Linked DNA regions of Homo sapiens: region 1 is linked to region 2. The links come from fine-mapping of genetic effects on gene expression. A gene starts in region 2. The other region holds a variant in brackets. All regions are shown on one strand. Distances are between the middles of the regions.

The links.
Region 1: its variant is fine-mapped to the expression of SEBOX in monocytes after LPS (Fairfax 2014, PIP 0.95).

The regions. Positions count from the first base shown.
Region 1 is chr17:28,725,107-28,734,168 of GRCh38, forward strand. TLCD1 (TLC domain containing 1) reads right to left here and starts at 1,127. Exons shown (of 4, transcript NM_138463.4): 1 at 798-1,127; 2 at 375-457; 3 at 198-280. The coding sequence starts at 991. NEK8 (NIMA related kinase 8) reads left to right here and starts at 3,682. Exons shown (of 15, transcript NM_178170.3): 1 at 3,682-3,754; 2 at 8,877-9,062. The coding sequence starts at 3,708. RefSeq lists enhancers at 663-1,386, 1,387-2,110, 2,835-3,558, 3,086-3,525, 3,559-4,282 and 3 more and a silencer at 906-1,435. The variant ATT/A (reference allele first, on the strand shown) is at 4,426.
Region 2 is chr17:28,360,510-28,369,501 of GRCh38, forward strand. SEBOX (SEBOX homeobox) reads right to left here and starts at 4,690. Exons shown (of 3, transcript NM_001080837.4): 1 at 4,612-4,690; 2 at 4,286-4,446; 3 at 2,997-4,139. The coding sequence starts at 4,642. The coding sequence ends at 3,759. It overlaps VMA12 (vacuolar ATPase assembly factor VMA12), which reads left to right. Exons shown (of 6, transcript NM_152464.3): 4 at 20-62; 5 at 226-338; 6 at 648-3,174. The coding sequence ends at 743. VTN (vitronectin) reads right to left here. Exons shown (of 8, transcript NM_000638.4): 4 at 8,780-8,919; 5 at 8,363-8,519; 6 at 8,012-8,164; 7 at 7,206-7,550; 8 at 6,775-6,972. The coding sequence ends at 6,860. It overlaps MIR4723 (microRNA 4723), which reads left to right and starts at 145; the gene lies at 145-225.

The DNA of each region.
Region 1 (9,062 bases), 360 kb after region 2:
GAGGCAGTGAAACCATGGGTTGCTGGCCTCAGTGAACAAGTACAGACTGCCAACCTCCAGCATCCTAGCATAAGAAGTAGCACACAGGTCGGGGGTGGGTGGTAAGAAAACACGGCCTTCTCCCAGATTCAGAAAGACGGAGCTGAGACTAGATTACTGACACCAGGCCTATACCACATAGTCTGCTTCTCTCTTACCATGACGTGATGGACAAGGTATTCCCAAGAGGCTCGCGTCTGTCCGCTAGCCACGATGTCCACCGTATCGTGGATGAAATACCCTAGTGGAGGGATGGGGCAAGAGATCATGAACTGAACAAGCAGCTTCCTTCTCCCTGTCCCCAATTTGCCTCCCGCTTCCTGGGCAAGACCTACCCGCAGAGAAGCAAACGAGCAAATAGCCAGAAAGTGACCACGCCGTCTCAATCTCCACTAACATGTCAGGAGTCTGCCATACACTGGAAAGGAGGGAAGAGGAGGCTCTGCATTTCGGCACCCTCAAGGACCATCAACTTCTCGGTTACCCTTCGCAGCCCCGGGGGATCCTGGGCTCGCGCTAGTGGCTGACTGGGAAGCTAAGAGTGGCTGGGCAAAACCCAAGAGCCTCCAGTTTCCCAGGGGCGATCCCCCTCCCCTGGGGCCACTGCGGCTTTTGGTTGGATAGGATACCAAACGGGATCAGGTGAGACTGCGTGGCCTCAGCCCGCCAGTGAGCGATGGGGGTAGTAACACAAGAGCCGGCCCCGGCTCCCCGCTCAGGATCCCCTGGCCACCTCATTTCCACAGTCGCTCACTCACCACAGCAGTGCCCAGATCCCCGACACAATGGAGTGAGCGAAGGAGACGAGCAGGTTGTGCCAGCGCCAGGTGCGCAGGGGGTCGGCGCGCACGTGCACGGGTAGGGGCAGGCGACAGAGCGCGCGCCGGAGCGCCCGGAAGGTCAGCGTGGCGCCCAGGAGCAGCGGCAGGGCGGGGTGCAGCAGTCGGGGCATGCTGGCCCTCCCTGCCGTCCGCCCTCGAGGCCGCCTCCTAGGTCTGTTCTGGGAACCGGGATCCCTCTCGGGCCAGTCCAGGCCGGCCGCCTCTCCCGCCGGCCGCCAGCCCCACACAGTTGGCGAAGCCCTCTAGGCCCCTTGGCTCCTCCTCGCCCTCCCTGCGAGGCCTCTGCCCCCGCCCCCAGCCGCCCGCGCCCCCGCCCCGCCCGCCTGCCCCCGCCCCGTCCGCCTGCCCCCGCCCCTCAGGCGCTGCTGCCGCGCGAGCCGGGTGTCCCCGTGGCCTCTCGGCCACCGGCCGGCTCCCGCGGACTTCGGGTAACTAGGAGCTGTGCTGGGGGCGTCGTCGCCGAGACACCCCTCGCTGGCGCCTCCCGACTGCCGACGGAGTCCCCGCTGCCCTCGCTCGCCTGGCCTCATTAACCCGCGTCCCCACTTTTCCCCGGGCCACCGGCTACCCCGCCCTGGGCGGGTACCGCGAGAGCTCTCTCCGCCCTCTACTTTCTGCGCAGAGCTGGACGGGACCCGACACGCCCACGCCCCCTAAGTCCTGGTCCTGGGGTGGGCTCCGGAGCCCCGCGTCCGACAGTGGTCTCCGTGCAGACCCAGTGCCCCTACCGCACCACTCGCAGTCTTCTGGCCGGAGTCCCGTGTTTACCTGTCCCTCCCGCGCCCGCGAGGTGGGCACTTGGGAACTGCTGAGTAACCCATCGCCACCTCTTCCCGCCGGCTCTTAAACTCCTGGGGCCGGGCGGCTGTCACAGTCCTCCCTCAGACAGTCCCGGCCCTCGGCCCGGCTCCCCGGAGGCTGGGCAAGCAAGACCTCCGATTTGCCGGGACAGCTGGAGTGACCCGCGCTCTCCAAGCCGGTAGCTTGCAGCAGTTGCGGCTCCTAGCCACTAGGTGTCAGCCTGCCCTCACTGTGGCGCGGGCTCCCCCTCCCGCCTCCGAGCGAGGCAGCTGCTTTCGGGGAGAGTTTAGGTATAAACTCTGGGCGAAAGGAGGAGCAGCTGAGAGCCAGCGAGGGAAGTTAAGCGGAGATGAGAGCGGGGAGGGAGAAGAGGGTAGTAATAGAGGAGGGGCGGGAAGAAGCGGGGGAGGGGAAAGGTGCTGCGGGCGGGAGGAAGAAGCCGAGAAAACCTGAGGCGCAAGGACCCAGGGACCAAGCCGTTTGAGTGTTTTCCTCCCCTATGGCTCCAAGGTTACACATTAACCCCTGTGGGACTCTTAAGTCAACCAAAGCCCAGTCGGTTTCTAGGTGAGAACACGGGTGTCCTGGGTGAGCGGCTTTCCCGCCCCTCCCCTTGGCTCACAGAGCTGCTCTGTCCGCCGGCCGACACCGGCCTGAGCCAGCGCCCTTCCAGCAGTCATTCCACGTGGGTGGGTTTGGATACCCTTGCGAGAGCCAGGACAGGGGCAGAAGATAAAACGCCCCTTTCCTCACACCCCTTGCCCACTCTGATACAGGGACGCTAACCTTCAGCTAGTGACCATCCTCCTCCTGAATACTGATGTTTTCTTTCTTTCTTTTTTTTTTTTTGAGATGGAGGCTCACTCTATCGCCCAGGCTGGAGTGCAATGGCACGATCTCGGCTCACTGCAACCTCCGCCTCCCAGATTCAAGCGATTCTCCTGCCTCAGCCTCCCGAGTAGCTGGGATTACAAGCGCGCGCCACCGTGCCCAACTAATTTTTGTATTTTTAGTAGAGACGAGGTTTTACCATGTTGGCCAGGTTGGTCTCAAACTCCTGACCTCAGGTGATCCGCCCGCCTCGGCCTCCCCAAAGTGCTGGAATTACAGGCGTGAGCCACCGCGCCTGGCCGAATACTGAGTTTTTCTAGAGCTCCCGCAGAGCAGGAGCCCGGGAGAACCTGGAATTAACCTCACTTCCGGTAAAGAGCCTAGCTGGTCACACTAACCAGCCCCCTGCCTCTAGGCTTTTGCCTTGAGCTCATTTCGGCGAAACCGCGGTCTTTCCTTCTCCCCTTGATGCTTTCAGGTACTGACCCACTACCGCCCCCATCTTCCCCCATGGGAAGATGAGCACTGAGGGCAGATTACCCTCCTGCAGCGCGTGTGTGAAAGGGGAGTTGAGAGTGCTGACGAGCGCGGCGCTCACTAGTCGGGACGGCCCGAGACCGTGTCATGTCCTCTTCAGGTGAATCAACTTGCACGACTTGGGATTTCCCCCGTCCCTCCCCAGGCAAACACGAAACCAACCCTGCTGCCTTCTCCCAGGAGCGCTGGTCTCGGTCGTTTTGGGTGTGTTTATCGTTTGCGTGCCAAGGAGAACCCGCTTTCTCCTGAAATAGCGTCACTCGTGGGCAAGAAGGGGGTCAATCTTCTCTTCCCACCCCTTCCCGGCCTGTGGGGTTTAACTCTCGGGAACGCGACATCCTTTTAGTCTAGCAAGCTTTACAAGGGCTGGGTATATGTGTGGGAGGGGCGGGTACCGTGCCCGCCATTGCGGGCGCGCCCTATTTTCTTGCCCTATTCTTGGACACTGCGTGGGGCAGGGTCGTGAGGGGAAAAGTGACGGCGTGTCGCAGCGGGAGGTGTGTGGTGCAGGCCCACAAATACGGACGCGTGGCGGAACCCACACCTAGGGCGCTGGCTCCGCCCCGCAAGCCGCTCGCCGTGAAGGGGCGGGGCCCAGAGTGGGTGGGTCCGCGCACGCGCCGCGTGGGGGACGGAAGTGAAACTCTAAGAAATGAGATGGAGAAGTACGAGCGGATCCGAGTGGTGGGGAGAGGTGCCTTCGGGTGAGCCAGGGCTCTGGGGGAGGAAACTGCTAGGGGATAGGGAAAATAAGCCCCAATTCCGCCCGCGAAGTCGCCGCCCGCCTAATCCCGCCCCAAGGCGTGAGCGCCACTCTGGGAAGCCCCGCCCAAGCTTCCGGTCCCAGTCCCCCGGGGAGACTCCGCCTCTACGGAGGCCACGCCCCTGACAGGCCCATTGCTCCGCCCACTGAGTTATGTTAGCTTCTTTATTCATTCGTTCAACAAATACTGAGTGCCAGCTATGTATGTCAGGCTTTGGCCGCTGGGTATATAGTTAGAACCGGAACGGGCGTGGTCTTTTCCCTCTTGGAACTTACTGACTGTGGGAAAGTTATACAATAAACAAAACATTATGAAGTAAGAAGTTATAGCAGTTATGAAGTGTTATTAGCAGGTTGTGAGGATAGAGTACATTACCAGTGAGAATACTTATATGAGATGGTCAAGGAAGAATTCTCTGAGAAGGGAGATTGCTTGCTTGCTTGATTGATTTTTAAGACAGAGTCTCCCTCTGTCACCCCGGCTGGAGTTCAGTGGCACGATCTTGGCACACTGCAACCACCACCTCCTGGGTTCAAGCAATCGTTGTGCCTCAGCCTCCCGAGTAGCTAGGATTACAGGCGTGCGCCACCATGCCCGGCTAAATTTTTTGG[ATT/A]TTTTTTTTTTTTTTTTTTTTTTGAGGCAGTCTCACTCTGTCGCAGTGGCGCGATCTCGAGTGCAGTGGCACTATCTCAGCTCACTGCAACCTCTGCCTCCCTGGTTCAAGCGCTTCTCCTGCCTCAGCCTCCCGAGTAGCTGGGACTACAGGCACGCGCCACCATGCCCAGCTAATATTTTTTGTGTTTTTAGTACAGATGGGGTTTCGCCATGTTGGCCAGGCTGGTCTCAAATTCCTGACCTCAGGTGATCCGCCCGCGCCGGCCTCCCTAAGTGCTGGAATTACAGGCGTGAGCCACCGCGACAGGCCAGAAGTGAGATTTAAGGCCAAGACTTGAGGAATGAGGACCAGTAGTCTGCAGGTGAAGGGAGAACTTTTCAGGCAAAGGAAATAGCGTATGTGAAATGTCTCACATGGGAAAACAGAGCATTCAAGAAACCGAGAAAGACTAGTAATAGTTGGAATGTAGTGGGCAAGGTAGAGAATGGTATAAAATGTAATTGTCGAGGGCGGGGACTAGATTATGGCCTGATAACCTGAGATAAAAGGTTCATTTGCCACAAACGGTTTTGTTTTGTTTTTGTTTTTGTTTTTGAGACGGAGTCTTGCACTGTCGCTCAGGCTGGAGTGTAGTGGCAATCTCAGTTCACTGCAATCTCCGCCTCCCGGGTTCACGCAATTCTCCTGCCTCAGCATCCTGAGTAGCTGGGACTACAGGCACACGCCACAACAACCGGCTAATTTTTTTTTTTTTTTTTTTTTTTTTTTTGTGAGACAGAGTCTCCTCTGTTGCCCAGGCTGGAGTGCAATGGCACCATCTTGGCTTACTGCAAGCCCCGCCTCCCGGGTTCAAGCAATTCTCCTGCCTCAGCCTTACAGGCGTGTGCCACCATGCCTGGCTAATTTTTTGTATTTTTAGTAGAGACAGGGTTTCACCATGTTGGCCAGCCTGGTCTCGAACTCCTGACCTCAGGCGATCCACCTGCTTCTGCCTCCCAAAGTGTTGGGATTACAGGCGTGAGCCACCACTCCCAGCCACCAGGAAGGGTTTTAAAGAGGAAGAGTGATCCTGAGACTTGGCAGAGTTTTCTGAAAAGGGGCAGGGTGCAGTGGCTCACGCCTATAATCCTAGCACTTTGGGAGGCCGAGATGGGCAATTGCTTGAGCTTAGGAGTTAGAGACCAGCCTGGGCAACACAATGAGTCCCCCTGTCTACAAAAAAATAAAAAAATTAGCCAGGTATGGTGGCATTGGCATGTGCCTGTAGTCCCAACTACTCAGGAGGCTGAGGTGGGAGGATCACTTGAGCATGGGAGGTGGAGGCTGTAGTAAGCTGAGATGAGACCCCTGCACTTCAACTTGGTTGACAGAGTGAGAACCTATCTAAAAAAAGAAATAATACAAGAAAAAAAGAAAGAAAGGAAAGAAAGAAGGGGCCGGGCACGGTGGCTCAGGCCTGTAATTCTAGCACTTTGGGAGGCCGAGGTGGTTGGATCACCTGAGGTCAAGAGTTCGAGACCAGCCTGGCCAACACAGTGAAACCCCATCTCTACTAAAAATACAAAATTTAGCTGGGTGTTGTGACGGCTACTTGGGAGGCTGAGTCAGGAGAATCGCTTGAACCTGGAAGGCAGAGGTTGCAGTGAGCTGAGACTGTGCCATTGCACTACAGCCTAGGCAACAAGAGTGAAACTCTGTCTCAAAAAAAAATAAAAACAAAAAGGCCGGGCGTGGGGGTCATGCCTGTAATCCCAGCACTTTGGGAGGCCGAGGCGGGCAGGTCACGAGGTCAAGAGATCGAGACCATCCCGGCCAACATGGTAAAACCCCGTCTCTACTAAAAATAAAAAAATTAGCTGGGCGTGGGTGGCACGCGCCTGTAGTCCCAGCTACTCGGGAGGCTGAGGGAGGAGAATTGCTTGAACCTGGGAGGCGGAGGATGTAGTGAGCCGAGATCGCGCCGCTCCACTCCCGCCTGGCAACAGAGTGAGACTCCTTCTCAAAAATAAAAAAAATAGAAAAATAAAAAATCTTATCAGACCATTCCTCTATATTTTGTCTTTCTTTCTTTCTTTTTTTTTTTCTGAGACAGAGTCTCGCTCTGTCACCCAGACTAGAGTGCAGTGGCACCATCTCGGCTCATTGCAAGCTCCGCCTCCCAGGTTCACGCCATTCTTCTGCCTCAGCCTCCCTAGCAGCTGGAACTACAGGCGCCCGCCACCACTCCCGGCTAATTTTTTTGTATTTTTTAGTAGAGACGGGGTTTCACCATGTTAGCCAGTATGGTCTCGATCTGCTGACCTCGTGATCCGCCTGCCTCAGTCTCCCAAAGGCCTGGGATTACAGGCGTGAGCCACCGCGCCTGGCCCCAATTTTTTTTTTTTTTTTTTTTTTTTTTTTTTTTTTTTTTTTGAGACGGAGTCTTGCTCTATCTTCTAGGCTGGACTGCAGTGGCGCAATCTAGGCTCACTGCAAGCTCCGCCTCACGGGTTCACGCCATTCTACTGCCTCAGTCTCCCGAGTAGCTGGGACTACAGGCACCCACCAGCATGCCTAGCTAATTTTTTGTATTTTTAGTAGAGACGGGGTTTCATCGTGTTAGCCAGGATAGTAAGATTTTTAAATTGCATTCTGGGGCTGGGCATGGTGGCTCATGCCCATAATCCCAGCACTTTGGGAGGCCGAGGTGGGAGCATATCTTGAGGCCACGAGTTCAAGACCAACCTGGCCAACATAGTGAGACCCATATCTATAAAAAAAAGAAAAATAAATAAAAAATAAATGTCATTCTGGTTCATGTAGAATTTAGATTTGAGGGTGACAGGAGTGAAAGGGACCATTTTGGAGAGTTATACAGTATTTTAGGCGAGAAATTATGATGACTATAGGGCAAGGGCTGTAGAGAGGGCACAGAGAATTGGATGGATTTACAGTATTGCAGAGGTAGAAATAGGATTTGCTTGTGTGAAATGGAGGAAAGATTCTAGGGCGATTTTCTTTTTTCTTTTCTTTTTTTTTTTTTTTTTTTTTTTTGAGGTGGAGTCTCACTCTGTCGCCCAGGCTGGAGTGCAGTGGCGCCATCTCGGCTCACAGCAAGCTCCACCTCCCAGGTTCAGGCCATTCTGCTGCCTCAGCCTCCCGAGTAGCTGGGATTACAGGCGCCTGCCACCACACCCAGCTAATTTTTGTATTTTGGGTGGAGATGGGGTTTCACCATTTTGGCCAGGTTGTTCTCAAATTCCTGACCTCAAATGCTCCACCCACCTCGGCCTCCCAAAGTGTTAGTATTACAAGTGTGAGCCATTTCGCCCGGCCTAGGCTGATTTTCAAGTGTCTGTTTTTTTGTTGTTTTGTTTTGAGACCATCTCACTTGGTCACCCAGGCTGGAGTGCAGTGGCGCAATCATGGCTAACTGTATCTTCAATGTCCTAGGCTCAGGTGATCCTCCCACCTCATCCTCCAGAGCAGCTGGGACCACAGAGGCTTGCCACCATGCTCAGCTAATTTTTTTTTTTTTTTTTTTTTGCGAGAGTGGGTTTCACCATGTTGCTCAGGCTGGTCTTGAACGCCTGGACTCAAGTGATCTACCTGCCTTGGCCTCCCAAAGTGCTGAGATCACAGGCCTTAGCCACTTGGCCCTGCCTCAGGTTTCTGATTTTAGCAGTTTCTGATTTTAATAACTGGAGGATGATGGTAGCATTTACTGAGATGGAAGAGACTGAGCAAGGAAAGGTTTGGAGGCAGGAATCAAGAGTTTTATTTTGAATTTGTTAAAATTTAGGATGACTGTGAGCCATTCAAGTGGATATCTGAGTCTAGGGTTCAGAAGAGAAGCCTGATCTGGAGGTAAAAATTTGAGACTTAGATCAGCTTATAGTCCACTCATTCAACAAATACTTATTGACTGCCTATTGTGTGCTAAATATTGGGCTATGCACTGGGGTTATTGTGGTGAACAAGAATGTTGTAGTCCCTGCTTTTATGGAGACTAACCACAGAATTAAAATAAAATAATATGAATGGCTTCTATTCATTGAGCGTTTTCTTTGTGCTGGTCACTGCACTCAGTGCCTTACATGCATTTTCTCATTCCATCCTCTCAACAACCCTGGGAGGCCCATTTCATTTTCCAGACAATGATGTCACATAATGTATCAAACCAGATAACTAGTAAGAGGAGGCACCCAGATTTGAACCCAGGCAGTCTGTGGGAACTTAGAGATCAAGACTAACTTTACCTCACAGTGCCTGTGGTGAAACTGAAGTCCCACACAGCTTGTAATCAGTTCTCCCTGTTCCCAAGTTCAGTGTTCTGTGCGCTTGGTTAGATGACCTCTCAGTCTAGAACCCTCTTCCAAGAGACATCAGTCACTAGGCTGCACCGCCCTGCCTGATATGTGGCTGGAGGCTTAGCTGGTAACCTGTCCCTGTCCTCCGTATCCCTAGGATTGTGCACCTGTGCCTGCGAAAGGCTGACCAGAAGCTGGTGATCATCAAGCAGATTCCAGTGGAACAGATGACCAAGGAAGAGCGGCAGGCAGCCCAGAATGAGTGCCAGGTCCTCAAGCTGCTCAACCACCCCAATGTCATTGAGTACTACGAGAACTTCCTGGAAGACAAAGCCCTTATGAT
Region 2 (8,992 bases):
TTCTTTTTCTTTTTCCCAGGATACAAGACATGGTGGGACTCTCAGCGACCTGGGAAAGCAAGGTGAGGTACTAGGAGATCAGGCTTCTAAAACCTTTTCCTGAGATGGGTCATGACACTCAGGCTTGTTGTTTGACTGAAACCCAGTTGGTGGGGGAGCCATGAGATAAGAGCACCTCCTAGAGAATGTTGAACTAAAGGTGCCCTCTCTGGCTCCTCCCCAAAGTGAGATCATTGAAGGCTCTGGTCATCACCATCTTCAATTTCATTGTCACGGTGGTTGCTGCCTTCGTCTGCACTTACCTTGGAAGCCAATATATCTTCACAGAAATGGCCTCGGTGAGTAGGCACTGGGCAGGGCAGGGTGCCCCTGGTGGGGGTGTTAGTGGGTAAGGGAGGACGTATGTGAAAGTGCCTTGCACAGGTTAGGTATTGAACAGATATTTATGCCATTAATAAGGGGAGCATTAGAGCTTTCCAGCAGTCACGGGAGGTTAGGTAATAACCCCAGGAGAAGCCACATTCTCTTTTCTTCCCCTCCCCCAACTTAGAGGGTGGTTGGGGGGCTCTCCATCCTCATTAAAGTTGCTGGGGTACAGAGCTGGTTGTTGGCCTGCATCCCTTAAGCCTGGTTCTCCCCATCTCCAGCGGGTGCTAGCTGCATTGATCGTCGCCTCTGTGGTGGGTCTGGCCGAGCTGTATGTCATGGTGCGGGCAATGGAAGGCGAGCTGGGAGAACTGTAACTGGTGCTTCATCATCAAGTCTAGAGAAGACTTTGGGGGCTTCAGGCTCCAATTGGCAGTCACCGACTCAGTCAACCCATCAGACTTTTTGTATTCAGCTCCAGTTAGTCAGAAGACCAGCCCAGGCCAGCTGCTGTTTCTGTGGGGAGCCCTAATCTTCTGTGAATTTCCAAAGGGAGCATTGGAGGAGATTGAGATAACACATCTTTAAAACAGAAAGAACTGGTCTTGGTCTATCAGTACCTCTTCCTGAATCTGGTACCCATCTGCCTTCTCCAGTTCATTCTAAACACTGCTGGGACTAGGGTTTTTCCATCAGGAGCAAATGGAATCCAGGCCTTCCCAGAAGTAGACCATACTGCCTTGAACTTGTCCATATGTACAAACTGATCACCAGCTTTCTCCATACATTTTTAATGCAGACCTGTAATTGAGTTCAGAAGCCTCCAAGAAAACAGAAAGGATCCCCTTTCTCCAGTTTGTGCTGGAAGAGGAGCTGATCAGAGACATCAAATAAGAGAAAGATGGGTTGCTAGAGGATGGTAGAACTGGAAGCAAGGCAGCTACCTTTTTGCAAAAGGAAATGGTGTTAGGCCCCTTTTCCAGAAGATAAGACAGACTCATAGAGATTAAATGATCACTATGGTCCTTCTTCTGTTAAATGGAGCCAAAGACGCCTATGTTGTTCTGAAGTCTTGTAATGTTTAACTTCTGAGAACTTAGATTAGTGGTGTGATGATAGAGTCTGTATAACGCATTGAAAAGGGTATCAGGCTTAGTTATTTATCCAATAAATATTTATTGTATGCAGGGTATTCCTATTTTAACTCCTGTGACAACACAAAGCATAGCGATTTCCATAGTTCTAACTGTTCAGGGTCTGCTCCTCCTGGTACACTCTTTTTGGTTCACTGTATGTACTCCTGTTGTCTTTTTTTTTTTTTCCAAAGCACTTTTCTGTTTTCATAAATTATATACTCATTCACTCAGTGGACACTTCCTCTACAATGTTTGCCAGTTTCTGTTAGTTGGGAGAAGTGTCAGCTGTGAAAAGAAAAAGTAGGTGGCATTTTACAGTGTTTCCAGTAACCTGAGCTATATAAAATTTGTGTTAAAAAGCTACACTGGGCCAGGTGAGGTGGCTCACACCTGTAATCGTAGCATTTTGGGAGGCTGAGGCAGGCGGATCACTTGAGGTTGGGAGTTTAAGACCAGCATGGCCAATATAGCGAAACCCCATCTTTACTAAAAATACAAAAAAATTAGCCAGGCGTGGTGGTACATGCCTGTAATCCCAGCACTTTGGGAGACCAAGGTGGGAGGATGCTTGAGTTCAGGAGTTTGAGACCAGCCTGGGCAACATGGCAAAAGCCCATCTCTACAAAAAAACGCAGAAATTAGCTGACATGGTAGCGCACGCCTGTAGTCCCAGCTACTCAGGAGGCTAAGGTGGGAGGATCACTTGAGCCTGGGAGGCAGAGGTTGCAGTAAGCTGAGTAAGCCAAGATCATGCTATTGCACTCTAGCCTGGATGACAGAGTGAGACCTTGTCTCAATGAAAAAGCAGGGGGCACTGGGAGGGGAGAACCAAATGCCCTATCCTCCAGTTCTCAGCATATAGAAGGGAGCTCTCTCATCTGCTAGCCACTCCTGCCTCACTGTGCCATGCTTTCTGTAATGCACTCTGGGTCCAGGGACTGCTTGGCAGGAGGTGGGAAGAACAAGAAGTTTAGGGCCTTCCCAGTTTCTTAGGGCCTGTCTGGAGAGGGAACTAGCGTTTACTGAGTTTTTACGATGTGTTACACACCATGTAAAGCCCTTTACCTACATTATTTCTTATACCCCAAACAGAGAGCAAATAAGTATCCCCATTTTTTAGTCACATAGAGTTCCAGAGTTGCCACAGTTACATCGCAAAGTCAGGATTTGAATCCAGTGCAGACCGCAAACACCATGGTTTTCTCTCCAAAGCAGAGCAGCTCCAGAGGTGGAGGTGACTGGAATGTCCTAGATTCAGTGGGACCAGGAGCTGGGGGTGCTAGCAGAGGCTCTCATCTCCCCAGGGTCTTGTCAGTCAGAGTCCTAAACCCTTCAATTAACTATCCCTCTAATCCCAGCTGAAGCCTGGGTAATACCTCCCACCAAGAGGTATCTGTGTGGAACCTGGCCCTATTTAGGGATTAGGTGATGGAGATAAATTTCCATGGCAAACGGCCCTCGTCCCCGTTCGTTTGCAGAGCACAACAATCCAGATTAAGGTACAGAGTTTGGGTTTTATTTGGAGATTAGTTGGTATTACAGGTGATGGTGATACCAAAACCCAATGCTGCTATACCTGCCTCCATCCCAGATCTGTCAGGTTGTCTCCACAGCCCCACATCAGAGGGCATCCAATCTGATCTTTGTGAAAATTAAATCAACATAAGCCCCAGCTTCCTATCTTTGCTTCATTACTTTAATGCCACTCCCTCTTCACATCCGTAGTTCTGATTAATTTGTCCAGGTGGTCGATGGTCAAGAGAGGGGGCCCTGACCCATAAAGAAGTTGGCTCTCCAGCAGTCTAGATGAGGAGCAGCACTCTCCTCTCCTACCTCACTTAGCAGTTAGCAAGGTAATGGCCTGGAGAGACCTCAGGAGACAGGAGCCTGCCCCTTCAGAAGGAGGAGGCCATCAGCTGGTGAGAACTGGGGACCAGGCCTGGCAAGAGTGGAGGAAAACATGACCCTCATCTCATCCTTCTGAAGGTACCACCTGCCACAACAATGAGCATATGCCCCAAAGGGGTCAGGGTGTGGGGTGGCAGGAGCCAGGCCCCAGTCTGCTTAGGACCTGCATCTAGGCTGGCCTGGAGGCCAGTGGAAGGGAGGGATGCCTGAGCTAAACTCCTTTCCCGTAGGGAATCCCTTTGCATAAAAAGTGGGGCCAGGGAATCCACTTCTGATGTGTTCAATCCCAGGAGGGGCAGGGTGGGCCACAGGAGTCAGAGGAGGGGCCTTGCAAGTTCTGGACAAAGACTAGGAGTGGTCCACATTGACGACAATGGCCAAGGCATAGATGAGGTCAGACAGGCTGCCTAGTGAAGTCTGGGGAGTAGCTCGCTCTAAAGAAGGGTGGACCTCTGAAGCCCCAGCTGATCCCCATGGGGCTACAGCTTTAGCCCCTTCCCAGCCCTGCCGTGGACTCAAGCCAGGAGCTGGACAGGAGCTATGTCGACACACTGAGGTGCGCTGAGGTGTGCCGCTGGAGGGTGGAGGTTGGCCTGGCATTTGGGGATCCCAGGGCTGCTGGAGGGTGTCTGGAAGAGAACAGGAGCTCTGGGGGCACTCAGACCCAGGGCTTAGAATTCCTGACTTCCTGTTCTTGATTATTTTGGCCCAGCGCTTCTGGAACCACACCTGCTAGGAAAGAAGAAGGGGTCTGTTCTGGCCCCAGCATCCCCTCCACCCAGGGACAGGGGAAACAACCTGAAGGCAGGCTACCCAGCGAAGGGGCTGTGGGCCAAGCCTAGATGTTGGCTGTGTGAGAAGGGGTCACAGCTCACCTGTACCTTGGCCTCAGGAAGGCAAGTGACCCAGGCCAGGTGCTCATGGGTGCTGATGTTGGGGTAGGGCCATGCTGCAAACGCCCTCTCCAGCTCCAGTAGCTGCCCTTTGCTGAAGGTGGTCCGCTTTCTCCGGTGGGAACCCAACCCGCTGCCACCGTCTGCAGGCCATGGTGGGGGTCAAGCTGGGACTCCCTGCAAGAGCCTCCACCCAGCCTCAAAGCCCTCAATCAACCCCGAAGTCCCTACTCCCACCCCTCTCCAACCGTCCTCATCCTACCATGGCCTGCGTTCTCACCCTGCCCACACTTCCCCCATCAGATCACCTGCTGAGGATGCATCCACAGGGCTGGGCATGGAGCTGGCAAAGGGTAAGGTGCCAGAGGGCCGTGCCAGAGGGCCATGCCAGGGCTGTGCCCACACCAGACCCCCCCATTTGGGTTTTATCATGCTCAGGGTGGCTGGCCCCGCCTTCAGGAGTGGAGAGGTTTAGAGTCCAGCTCAAGCAAGGCAGAGAAGTCTCGGTGGGGAAGAAGGGAGGCTGGAGGCCGGGTTGGGCTTATGAGGGTATGGGTGGGGCAAATTGTATACCCCCTGCCCCTCCAAGGCCTCGCAAAGGAAGCTGGACCCAGCATCCCTTCTCAAACCTCAAACTGGCAGTCTGTGCCTGAAATCCTATACTTCATGAAAATCCTCCCAGGGGTCCTTCCAGGCAGCCAAAGAAAACCATCTCTCCAGTGCTCCCAGGCACTGGCTGCCCCTTCTGGAGCCCTTAGTGCTCTGAACCTGGCTACCTTCAGGGGAGAGGGAGTGGAGTCCTCTCCCACAACTGGGGACTGGGCTGGTGAAGTGGGACAGGATGAGAAGGATGGTAGGGTGTCAACGGGATGAATGGGAGCCAGCCGCTGTCAGCAGGACTGGGGAACAGATGTCACCACCAGATTGCCCTCAGGTCTGCTTTAGAGCTTTGCCTCATCTAACCCTTTCTCTCTCTGGCCCCTCAAGAGCCAGATGGACTTCCTGGGGTTCGGAACCTGGAACCAGAGGAGGTTCCACAGGTGCAGTTGAGGGGTTCTAAGAAAGATGATAAAGATGTTTATGTGTACAGTATTCTCTTCCTTGGATATATTCTGAGCCACTTTTTCTTAAATTTTGAAAATTTTTTTCTTTTTTCTTTTTTTTTCAAGATGGAGTCTTGCTTTGTCACCCAGGCTGGAGTGCAGTGGCGTGATCTTGGCTCACTGCAACCTCCACCTCCCGAGTTCAAGCAACTCCACCTCCTGCCTCTTCCTCCGGAGTAGCTGGGGTTACAGGCGCCTGCCACCACACCCGGCTAATTTTTTGTATTTTTAGTAGAGACGGGGTTTCACCATGTTGGCCAGGCTGGTCTCGAACTCCTAACCTCATGATCCACGGGCCTTGGTTTCCCAAAGTGCTGGGACCACAGGCATGAACCACCGTGCCTGGCCTAAATTTTCTTTTTCTCACTCTGTTGCCCAGGCTGGAGTACAGTGGTGTGATTTCTGCTCACTGCAGCCTCAACCTCCCAAGCTCAAGCAATCCTCCCACCTCAGCCTCCTAAATAGCTGGGACTACAGGCACACACCACCCATAAGTTGCCCAGCTAACTTATTTATTTTTGTAGAGATGGTGTCTTGCTATATTGCCTAGGCTGGTCTCAAACTTCGGGATTCCAGCAATCCTCCCACCTTGGCTTCCCAAAGTGCTGGAATTACAGGCATGAGCCACCATGCCCAGACAAAAATTCCCCCCCTTTTTTATTTTGTTCTGTTTTTAGAGATAGAGTCTCACTCTATTCCCCAGGTTGGAGTGCAGTGGTACAATAATAGCTCACTGCAGCTTCAAACTCCTGGGCTCCTGGGCCACTTTTCCACAAGAAGTGTGTGCTTTTGAATTTCCTTTCAGTTTCTGCCCTTCACTATCTCTCCTGGTCTTGCTGCTCCCCATCCTAGACCCTAGACAGAGACCTCAAGAAAGGCTCACCCTAGGGGTGGGTTTGGGGAAGCACAGTGACTGGTTCCCCAAGTGCTCAGGAGTCAGAGCTACTAGGATTTCAGATCAGGATGGACAAAAAAGCTGAGCCAGAACCCCACCAACTCTTGCCCCTTCTCTCTCCTCCAAGACCCTAGTCAACTCCAAGGGGCAAAGCAAGCCTCACCCACGGAGGCTGGCCTGGTAACTTTGTCATCATCAGAGGAGTTCAAGTGTCTGCTTAGCTGCTGGTGGGTTGCTGGGGGCTGCTTAGCTCAAGAGGAAGGGTAGCTCTCAGGAGGCCTTCCCCAGCCCCAAACCGGTTCACAGAGAGGTCCTGAGCACAGAGAGGTCCTGAGCCCAACATGGGTTGGACACGGCGAGGCCCTTCTCTGTCCCTTCTCTGTCCCCCTCACCAACCCATTCTGACAGTCCAGCTTCCTCTCCTTTACCCAGACAGGGATGTGTCTACCCCAGTCAGAACAATAATTTTAAACTCGGGGCTAAGGGACCTTTATTGGGCTGGGGGAAGGAGATGGGAGGAGGGAGCTACAGAGGGCCCGGCCATGTGGGCTCTGACTCCTACAGATGGCCAGGAGCTGGGCAGCCCAGCCAGTACTGAGCGATGGAGCGTGGGTAGGGAGGGTCCACAGTGTCCACTCGCCGTGTGCGAAGATTGACTCGGTAGTACTTGTCTGGAAGAGAGGAAAGCAGAGGATGCGTGAGGCCCAGCCTGGCCCTGCCCACTCTTCCCTTGAGAAGTCTAGGGTCTCTCCCAGAAGGGAAAGTGAACATCCATGATGCAGCTAAGGACTTCTGGCCTGGCTTTCTGTGGTCACTACTTGCAGGCTGCGTTCAGCCCTTGTGCACCAGGGACAGCAAGGAAAACCCAAGCTAGACCAGCTTCAGGGGTGGCAGCGGCTCCTACCTCCAGAGAAGAAGAAGACACTCTGGATGGGTTCACAGGTGGCAGGCACAAGCCAGTCCATCCTGTAGTCATCATAGTTGTTGGCTCCCAAGTTGCTCTCCTCACTGGAGAACAAGGACAGCCACGTGGCGCGGGATGGCCGGCGGGAGTTCTGGTTGCGGCCACGGCTGTGGCCTCGTTGTGAACGGTAGCCTTTGCGGTTGCGATGCCTAAACCTTTGTTTCTTGGCCAAGGAGGGGCGGGGTGCCATGCCTGAGATGTAGATGCGGCCAGCCATGGCTGCGTCCACTTGCCCTGGCACACCGTGCCAGTCCCGGCTAATGAACTGGGGCTGTCTGGTACCAGCTGTGGCAGGGAAGGGGTGAATGAGAGGTCTTGGGGGTCCGAATCTTGCCCCTTCCAGCGGGGCCATTAGAGTTCATCTGCTGCACCTTGCCCAAAGACACACAGCAGCGAATGGCAGAGCCAGGCCTTTGACTCTCAGTCCAATTCCCTTCCCCCTGTGCTTTCCCTCCACCATATCACTGGTGTCTCGACCCCACCCCCCCAGGCCCCCTAAACTCCTCAGCCACAGCCCCTCCCTCTGCTGGCTGTGCTCTCAGCTGTGCTAGGCAAAGTCCAAGGTGTGGGGTCCAGGTAGAGCTGAGCTTTCCCCAAAAGGTCAACAGAAGCAAAGTCTGGCCTGAGCAAACAGACTTTGATCGATAGCTCCACAACCACAGCCCCCTCCAGCCGGCCTGGCTCTACCAATACCAAGGGGTTTCAGCCCTTTTGAGGGAGAAGCAAGACTTGCCCTCTCTCCATACCAGAGGTTCTGCCCCAGAAGAGAAGCTCGAAGATGTCCTCCCAGCTGTCCCGCTGCATCATGGCAAAGTGTTCAAACACAGCCGACAGGGAGCTGCCTTCACACTCCTCCTGACTGGGCTGGTGCTGGAACTGGTACTCCCAGTACTGTTTCCCTGAGGAGCAGGGTGGTGGGCATTAGGAGGGCTGGGCCAGGGCAAGACTGGAGATCCCAGAGGCTGTTGAAGTTAGGATCTCCCAGCATGAGGTGGGGGTCAGGGGTGGGCACATGCTGAGGCCTGTCCCCAGTGAAATGTGAAAGGAATCCAAGACTGCTCCACTGCCTGCTCAGTCTCCCACCACCCCCTGAGTACCCTTGAAGAAGTAGACCCGCTCCCGGCCACTGTAGCTATGGGCAGGGAGGGCCAAGGCTGCATCCACGTTGTCCGGGATGCCATCGAAGCCGTCAGAGATATTTCGGGGGTAATCAGGGTCCAGGACACCATCCTCAAAGCGCCAGTACTGACTACCCTAAGAGGTGGGGAAAGTGAAAAGGGGTATGGAGGCCGCTGGCTGGGCACAGAGGCAGAGTCCCTTGCCCTAAGGCAGCCGTTCCCAGGTCCAGGTTCACTGCCCAGGACCTGGAGTCTTGGGGCTGCCCTGTGCTCACAGAGCTCCCACCAGGTCCTGCAGGGCCCTGGGTCCAGCTTCCCTGTCCACCCTGTCCCTGGGAGCAATAGCTCTCAAACCCTCCCTAGATGCTTTCTACCCTGGCCCACAGCCCCTGGCACCTTGAAGAGGTAGGTCTTCCCCTGACAGTTGATGCGGGTGAAGGCGGCATCGATGGGGCCCTCGATGCCCCAGACATCTCGGATGAGCTTGGGGTACCCAGGCCTCACTGCCTTTTCGTCCAGTTCATAGCAGTACTGCCCTAGAGTGGAGGAGATGGTGTGAGAGCAGGGACGCTCCTGGGGCAGACCCGCATCCCCAGTACCTGCCCTGGA